2 linked regions of the Homo sapiens genome follow. The protein of the gene in region 2 interacts with the protein of the main gene of each other region in a pairwise test. Each region holds a gene or a part of one and is shown on either strand. Other genes may lie near its edges. The genes, in order: GPR37 and FABP7.

Region 1 (3,821 bases), on a different chromosome or scaffold from region 2:
CCTATCTTGAATTAAGGTTTGTTACCAATTATGATGTCTATAGCACAGTACATTCCTTATATGGTTAAAAAAATTCATTTAACTACAACCTAACATGTTATAATTCCTATCAATCTGTCAGGTGTTTATTAAAATAAAAATGTAAATGAAGCAAGATTAGCAACATTTTGTCTTAAGATATAAACCATCTATGTTAGATTCTAAAGATTCCATGTTTATTCTCAGTAATTACAAAATCATTTCAAAATGTAATATTTCCCCCAAGCCCACAGTCCAGTTCTCAATCTTTGGTATTATTATGATGTTCCTAGTCAATCTTAAAGTGACCTGGAATTTCAGTTCCTTACCTTGGGGTTCTGATGAGTTTCCAAAAAGCAGTAACACATTTTTACCTATTTCCCTTTCTGACTAATGATATTGATTTGCATGACTGTGAACTCAAACTAAAAACAAAATTATGTATAGTTAGGTCATCATGATTTTAATAAAATTGAGAAACCATATTTTAGGACAGAATTTATCTGCTTTTAACCAAAATTTCACTATTGGTAGTCTGTTAAGGAAATTTCTTTCTTGATTCAATCTTCTTATAAAAGGCAGTTATTTCTAAATTGCATATCTTGATGCGAATTGGCTTATCAGATGCTTTTCCGATATAAAAAGGATTTGAATTAGGAAGACAATAGTAAAGATAGGCCCTGAAGATGGGAATTGATGAGGAAGGGGCTATTTTGACAGAAAAAAAGAAAAAAGTAACATCCCTGAATAGAGTCACAGACCTAATAAGAATGTCTCATTCTAGGCAGGGATCAAATCAATGACCTTGGCCTCATTAATGAATGCTATGAACTATTCAAGTGTACAGACAGATAACACTGAAAACTATTACAAATTCACAAATGGAAAGTATTCTGTCTCAAGAACAAGACTGACACAGTGATCATATCCTGCGTTTTATGGAAGTTTATGAAAAGTACCTACACTTACTCTGCAAATAAAAAAAGACCCTCCATATTTGACGTTGCAGTAATCCCATTCTCAACTCCACTCTGAAATTTTGGATGAGATCATCTCTTCTGGCACAAAGAGTATTATTCCAATTAGGATATTTAAGAGTTAGTCTTGGCAACAAGGTTGAGTTCATTATTGGACCTTGGCAGGTCAATTCATGGGAAGTGAAATGACAGGCGCATCCCTGGAGGATGGAGCAGAAGTGCAGAGGCAGAGACAAACTGCACTGCATAGCTGCCTTCCCATCCCTCTCCCACAATCTACATCCCAGACACAGGTCCATGTGCTTCCAATGGGATACTGTTAAAAGGTTGCCGCACATAAGACGAATGCCATTAAAGGTGTAAAAATTGTATCAAGGTCCATGCAGCCTAAATATGAAAGCAAAGGTAGACCCTCACCCACTCAGCCTTCGGTAAACTTATAAGCTCATATCTGTTTTACTTCTGCAGACACATTTGCCTCCTTGTCTCTGTGGAAGGATACTTTGCTGACATGGCAGGATACCTTGGGAGCCCTCAGGAGCTCAGAATAAATCTTCACTCTGATTATGTGCTTGAGAGATTAATCCAATTCTTGAGAAAGTCCATTCATCGTGCTCCCCTTTCCTCGACTCCACAATGGAGTCTAAAGTATCGCCCTTGTCCATCTTCTTTCTTAGGTTCTCCAAGGTCAAGTTAAACAATTTGTATATGTTTTGATTTTTTCAGAAGAAAAGGACTCAATTTAATATACTGTTATTACATTGCCAAATAAGCCATTCATTTAAATAAAATGTTTAATTTTGACGTATTTAGTGTCCTTATAGCTAATAAGGACTAATTGTAAAGCAGAGATAGATATCCTAGGCACTGGCACAAATTCCATATTTTAAAAGAAATTTCTAGAACTGAACTATTTGCTGAATTATTTTGCCAATTATTATTATGGACTTTCTATCCTGGGAAAGCTAAAGGAAACAAAAAAGCAAGAATTAAAAGATTTTCACATTTGTAACTTTTCATCATGGATCTAGGCTGTATAGGCATTTATGAAATTTATGAAGATTAATAGTAAGAATGTAACTGAAAAGAATTAGAGGGAGCACAGTTTTCCCTTTAATTTCTCCATCTCTGGTCATAACAAGCACAACTGTGACTTGACCCATTTCAGTGCCATTTCTGAGCTTCCACGATGCTTTGTTCAAACCTCTATTATAATATTCATCATGGTGTAGAACATTACTTTACTTTTCTGTAATTTTAATGGCAGTGGCTCATCTATGATATTCATCTTTGGAAACTTTTCCCCCTCTTCCTGTATTGCCTTCTCCTGCCCACTCCTAATAGTACCTCGCATAGAAGAAAAGCCAGGTAAACATTTGATAAATCAATGAATGGTGAACAAATGAACGAATGATGACACCTATGGAAAAGGATTACAGAAAATAATAAATTATTCAAATTGTTCTTTAATCAGTTATTGGGTGCTGCTGTTTTATATATAATCCTTAAAAGCTGAATGCCAGACAATATCTATAGAAGGGAAGTTAAAAAATCAATTTTCCTATTTATACTTCATTGACAAGCTTTAGAAAAGGACACATTCTCATTATGATCAATGGAAAAGGAAACTATTTGGATTTCTTATTTGAATATTATAAAACTTTTCTTTCTTGTGGAAGATCCAAATTCAGTTAACTTCACCATACACCATTCAGAAATGGAGTTATAAATAAAAGTGCACTCTAAGAAACACTTTTCTTCCTGTTAGAGTCATCAGCTAAATATTTTCATTTGCATGGGAATATATAAAATGATTACTAAAAGATTAATGGGAAGTCATAAAATATTTGTTCAGCACCATTCTCATATATTGAGCACATTTTCCCTAAGAATACTATTAGTAACTTTAAAATTGCTCATAAAACAGTAAGTTTCCACTTAAAAGTCCGGCAGAATACCTAATGACTAATCCACCTCTCAAAGAAAATTTACCATATGCCATGATAAATGTTCTATTACTTGAATACAGGCGTTCTAGGGAAATCTGTGTAGACTCAGATAGTTGTATGGCACTGTCATCTTCAACCTCCAAAAACCCTTTCTTTCTTGTCAGTGCTAGCTACAATCTAAGGCAATGAAAGAGCCATTTGTTCCACTCAACTTAAAACCAGTATTGCTAAAGTCATTGGAGAAGCTGGTTCCTCTCATTAGAAAAGATTCTAGACTTGTCACAAATTATTCCCAGACCAGAGGCCATGGTAAGACATGTTCCCTTTATTCTCTCTCCACCTCTGTGCAGGAGTTTTATCCCAGTAAAATAAAAATACAGTTAGATCTGGGGTTATCTCATTATAATTATTTGAAGCCTTCTGTTCTACAACACTCCATGAAGGTGTGGGTTCTTTAAACTAAAGAGAATCTCGATCATTCAAAACCTCCAATTAATGTCCAAACAGACCTTAATCTGTTATCTGGGATCTCGGTCAGATGATACCTTGATTCTGACTTCCATTAAATAATGAGCAAAGATTCATTCCAGTTGCCATATTTGATGTCTGAATTATTTGAATTTTTTTTTTTTTTTTTTGAGACAGGGTCCCACTCTGTCACCTAGGCTGGAATGCAGTGGCATGATCATGGATCACTGCAGCTTCAACCTCCAAGGCTCCAGAAATCCTCCTACCCCAGCCTCCTGAATGGTTGGGACTACAGGCATGCACCACCACATCCCGTTAATTTTTGTATTTTTTGTAAAGATGGAGTTTCGCCCTGTTGGCCAGGCTGATCTTGAACTCCTGGGCTTAAGCAATCTGCCTGCATAGGCCT
Region 2 (4,449 bases):
TTTCTCTGCTGTCATCGTACAAGGACTATGTAAAGCATTCTCACACCCTCCTCCAAAATTGAATGAGCCTACCCACCTATGTCAGTATCATCAATATACCATTGCAGGTCACACAAAAAGTGTCTGAGGAAGGCTTGGTGAAGGCATAATATTTCTCCTAGTTTGTGATACTACTCCATCATTAGATAAATTATTTGTTAATTATTTTATATTTGATCAATTTAGGACAAAAACAGAGGAAAAAGTCTTGTAAAGATGGAGTCAGAAATGGATCAGAGTAATAACAACTGTAAGCCCAACAACCTCAATGATTGCCAGGAGCCATCCGGGAAGTAGGAAGAAGCAAGGGAGGGGGCCCGCAGAAGGATGGCAACACTAGGGTCGCCTTGATCTCAGGCGTCCAGCTTTCAGAACTGAGAAAATTCATTTCTGTTGTTTTAAGCCACCAAGTTTGTGGTACTTTGTTGTGGCAGCCTTAGGACACTAATAAATCCTCTTTTACAGATAATTCCTAGTAAGTAAGAAGAGGCTGATTGAAAAAAATATTTTTCATGTCTACCTAGTATTGAATATATATGTTTAAAAGGCATATTATGCATTCGAGAAAAAAACTGGAAAGAAGTAACATCAAAATGGTTCTCTTTGGGGGCTGGGAGCCTTGGCTCAGGCCTGTAATCCCAGCACTCTGGGAGGCCGAGGCAGCAGGCGGGAGCATCACTTTGAGCTCAAGAGCTGTAGGCCAGCCTGGGCAACATGGCGAAATCCCATCTCTACAAAAATACAAAAAAATTAGCCCGGCGTTGGTGGCTTGCACCTGTGGTCCCAGCTACTTAGGAGGCTGAGGTTGTAGAATCGCTTGAGCCCATGAAGCAGAGGTTGCAGTGAGCCAAGAATGCACCCCCTGCACTCCAGTCTGGGTGACACAGCAAGACTTTATCTCAAAAAAAAAAAAAAAAAAGGGTTATCACTGATGAGAAATCAGAGGGGATTTTAATTTTTTTGTTATACTTTTCTGTTATATTCTAAATTATCTGCCCAGAACTTGTGTAACTTTATAAATTAAAATATAAACTGTTTAAAGATCTCTTATTACAGGAGCTATAAAGTCATCTGTCTGAGATTCTCTTATAATAGCAATTATCTTTATATATTTCAGTGATTATGGGCTTTATATTAAATTTTATTTGAGAGACATCCATAGTTATCCTACAAAAAATCTTTTGACACAGTTTTAGGCAAATCAATGGCAACTTTTATTTTTTTAACTACACATGAATTTTTCTCTTTTTCTACAATCAAAGAAGTTGAGCTGAAGAAGAAAATTAACTGGGATCTTTTTGTTTCCCCTGTTTTACATATAGTTAAAGAACCTTGCCAGTGATGTATTATTAAAGAAGGAAGGAAGGAGGAAGAATGGAAGGAGGAGGGAAGAAGAAGGAAGGAGGTGAGAGGTGTGCGGAGAGGAGAAAAAAACAAGGAAGAATGGAGAATTGTCATTACTTACCATAACCATTTTGCCATCCTTAATTTCTCTTACAAAATTTGTTTCTTTGCCATCCCATTTCTGTATGTGAACAAGTTTGTCTCCATCCAGGCTAACAACAGACTGAGACCAACAACAAAATGCAGAACATAGCAATAAATACAATTCAGATTTCTGATACGGAAGACGATGTGATTTTTGAAAGAGTTGTATAATTGAATAAATCATGATCAGTTAATTATCCTATTGTTATTTCTATTACTTCTAGATTTTCTATTATGTAAATTTGAATTCATAATTTGATTAAAAAGTATACATCTAAATACAAAAATTTAATATATTAAAAACAAAAATCCTAAACCAGTGCTTTGCAGCTAGTCGTCCCTCTAAAGAAAGCCTTAGAATGAGGCAAACTGTCTATTTAGTCAATCTGAGGCAACCTGGGGAATTAAACAAAATGCAATCTCTCTTTCAAACAAACCTTATTAAATATTTTCTGAAATACAAGTTTGATATAAAATGTGAACAGTATATGGTAAGAGACAAATACAACTGAGATTTATGCTATAGCAAGTACCCATTGTTCAAAATATAACATATGCACATTAAACTAACTTTGGTGTATTTCTCCTTGGATTGAAATACTGAAAATATTCTACACTTTCCAACATCTTAAAAAAAACATGCATTGGAAATCTTTATCTTTATTCCCCTCTCCCCATCCCCACTCTGAAGAAGAAGCAGTTTCTCACCTTACAGTTTCTATCATCTGCAGTGGTTTCATCAAACTCTTCTCCCAGCTGGAAACTAATCTCCGTGTTCTTGAATGTGCTGAGAGTCCTGATGACCACTTTGTCTCCTTCTTGACTGATAATTACCGTTGGTTTGGTCACATTTCCCACCTGCCTAGTGGCAAAGCCCACGCCTAAAATAGCAAAGGGAACAGTACAGTCTGCAGCGACTTCCAAAATAACTCACAAAGCAAGAATCTGCTTTCTGATTCTGGAATCCACGTTCTAAAGTGTAAGTTTCATTAGAACATGATTAGCCCATTAATCATGTAAAACACTACTGTGATAATAAGTGGATGCAGAAGAAAACCAAAAAAGTCAGAGAAGCTTCATATTCTCCACGGAATAGCAAATGTTCTGTTTTTATTGGCCCTGGGTAAGAAGGCAAGCAAGTGCCACATTAAAAATCCATTCAGTGGAAAATGCATAGCCTAGCATCTGATCAGGGCAATGTGATCTGTCTTTGCCTCTTGCTGACCTGATGAGTGAAAAATGGAATCTGCAAATATCTAAAGCTGCACGTTGAGAAGAGAACAGCCGGTCTTATTGTTACCTACCTAGAGCCTTCATGTACTCATCAAAGTTCTGACTGTTGGTCAGCTTCCAGGTAGCACAGAAAGCCTCCACCATCCTTGCCCTTTCCCCTCTTTAGAGACAGGAGCGGGGATCTTCTGGTCTAATTGCCACTGCAGCTCAGAAGACCCTTTACACCTCAGCAAGCAGCTCCTGCCTTCTTATTTGGAAAGAGGGTGGGCAAAAATCCAGTGATTTAAATTGCAAACACACCCCTCCAGTGTCCCTCTTTCCAAGAGGCTGTCACAGAGAGAGGAGAAGGGAAGGAGCGCTCGAGTGAGGCTCCAATCCTCTTTGTGATTGGCTCAGGCCACTGGGTTAGCGGAGTAGGTCGAGTTCCTCCCAATCCTCACACTACAGCCCTTATGCCTGAGAAAGCTCGGCAGGGATTCAATGGGGCTGGAGGCAGGGAACGGGAAAATGAGAGAAGGGCTTTCAGGTTCGGTGAGAAAAAACTTGGCAAAGGCAATCTCAGACTGCAAGGAAAGAAAAAAGATGCACAATGGGGCATTCAGATTGATTTCCGTTAATGACAAAGCTGGTCACAAATGAGGACCCCCCTTAAAGAAAACCACTGAAATGCCAGACTTTGCAGACAAAGGAGAGTGAATAGTGTGTGTTATTTTCTCTCATAGTTACAGGGAGAGCGAAATGCAGGCTAGAGTAGGCCAAACTGAAAAAGAGGGCGGGGAGGAGGTGTAAATGCCTTCCCTGGATATACTGCTTGAAGGCTACTCTGACTGTCAATGAGGAAGCACACTAATTTGGGTCCTTTCCCAACACAAACCGAGAGAATTTAAAGATCCCGTTGTCCTTTCTAAAAATGTGAGAACGAGACTGAGTTGGAAAAGGGACCTAAGGAAGAGTATGGTTAGGACTTACTAATGAGGTACAAAAATAAATAAAAGAATGCTTTTCCCCCCGATCTCCTTGAATAGATTATAGAACCCATGTGGAAAAACTGGACAGAAGATTATTTAGTAAGACTTTAAATTACCTGCATTCTAGGACCTTTTGATTTCCTGAGGCCACATCTACACAAATACAATCTGTGTACATTTGTTGGGAGTTAGTGATGGGGAAGGGCAGGAACTGGAGGAGCGGTAGGAATCAGAAGGGCTTTGGTTTCAGTTTGCCCTGGCTCAGGGTTCCCCAAGAATGGCAAATACCTTGAGGGTTCTAAGTAGAGTATTTAAAGGAAGTCTCTGAAATTCCCCTTCACCCAAAGAGATTCCTTCCTGACTTACTAGTGCTGACCAGCAATGAAAGCAGCTTACCTGCCTCTCCTGGGGACAGAGCAGGAGAATCCGACTTGATATTCCCTGCCCTTCTCTCTCCCCTCCCAATTAAACTGCAGCCCAGCACATTTCTACCCAATCCACACCAGATCCAACAGAGAAGGCTCAGAAGGCCTCCTACGCTAGGTGGCGGCTACATGATTCTTCTTCGGTGTCTCAAGTGCGCTTGTTTAACAAAAACTGTAGTCTTCCTTCACAACTGCTTTTCTTCCAATTTTCACTTTATTTGTGACTGATACCACCATGCACCCAACTGTACAAGCCAGAAACCTCTGAATCATTTCTAATACTTTACCACTAAAAT

The links.
Region 1: the proteins of FABP7 (region 2) and GPR37 interact in binary tests that used the Homo sapiens proteins (3 or more experiments, as listed by UniProt).

The regions. Positions count from the first base shown.
Region 1 is NC_000007.14:124,755,503-124,759,323, forward strand, and holds part of GPR37 (prosaposin receptor GPR37 precursor), read right to left. Parts: intron 1-3,821.
Region 2 is NC_000006.12:122,778,250-122,782,698, reverse strand, and holds the start of FABP7 (fatty acid-binding protein, brain), read right to left. Parts: upstream 2,984-4,449; 5' UTR 2,905-2,983; coding exon 2,832-2,904; intron 2,409-2,831; coding exon 2,236-2,408; coding exon of another isoform or gene 2,188-2,235; exon of another isoform or gene 1,607-2,187; coding exon 1,505-1,606; coding exon of another isoform or gene 1,352-1,504; exon of another isoform or gene 1-1,351. UniProt on the Homo sapiens protein: B-FABP could be involved in the transport of a so far unknown hydrophobic ligand with potential morphogenic activity during CNS development.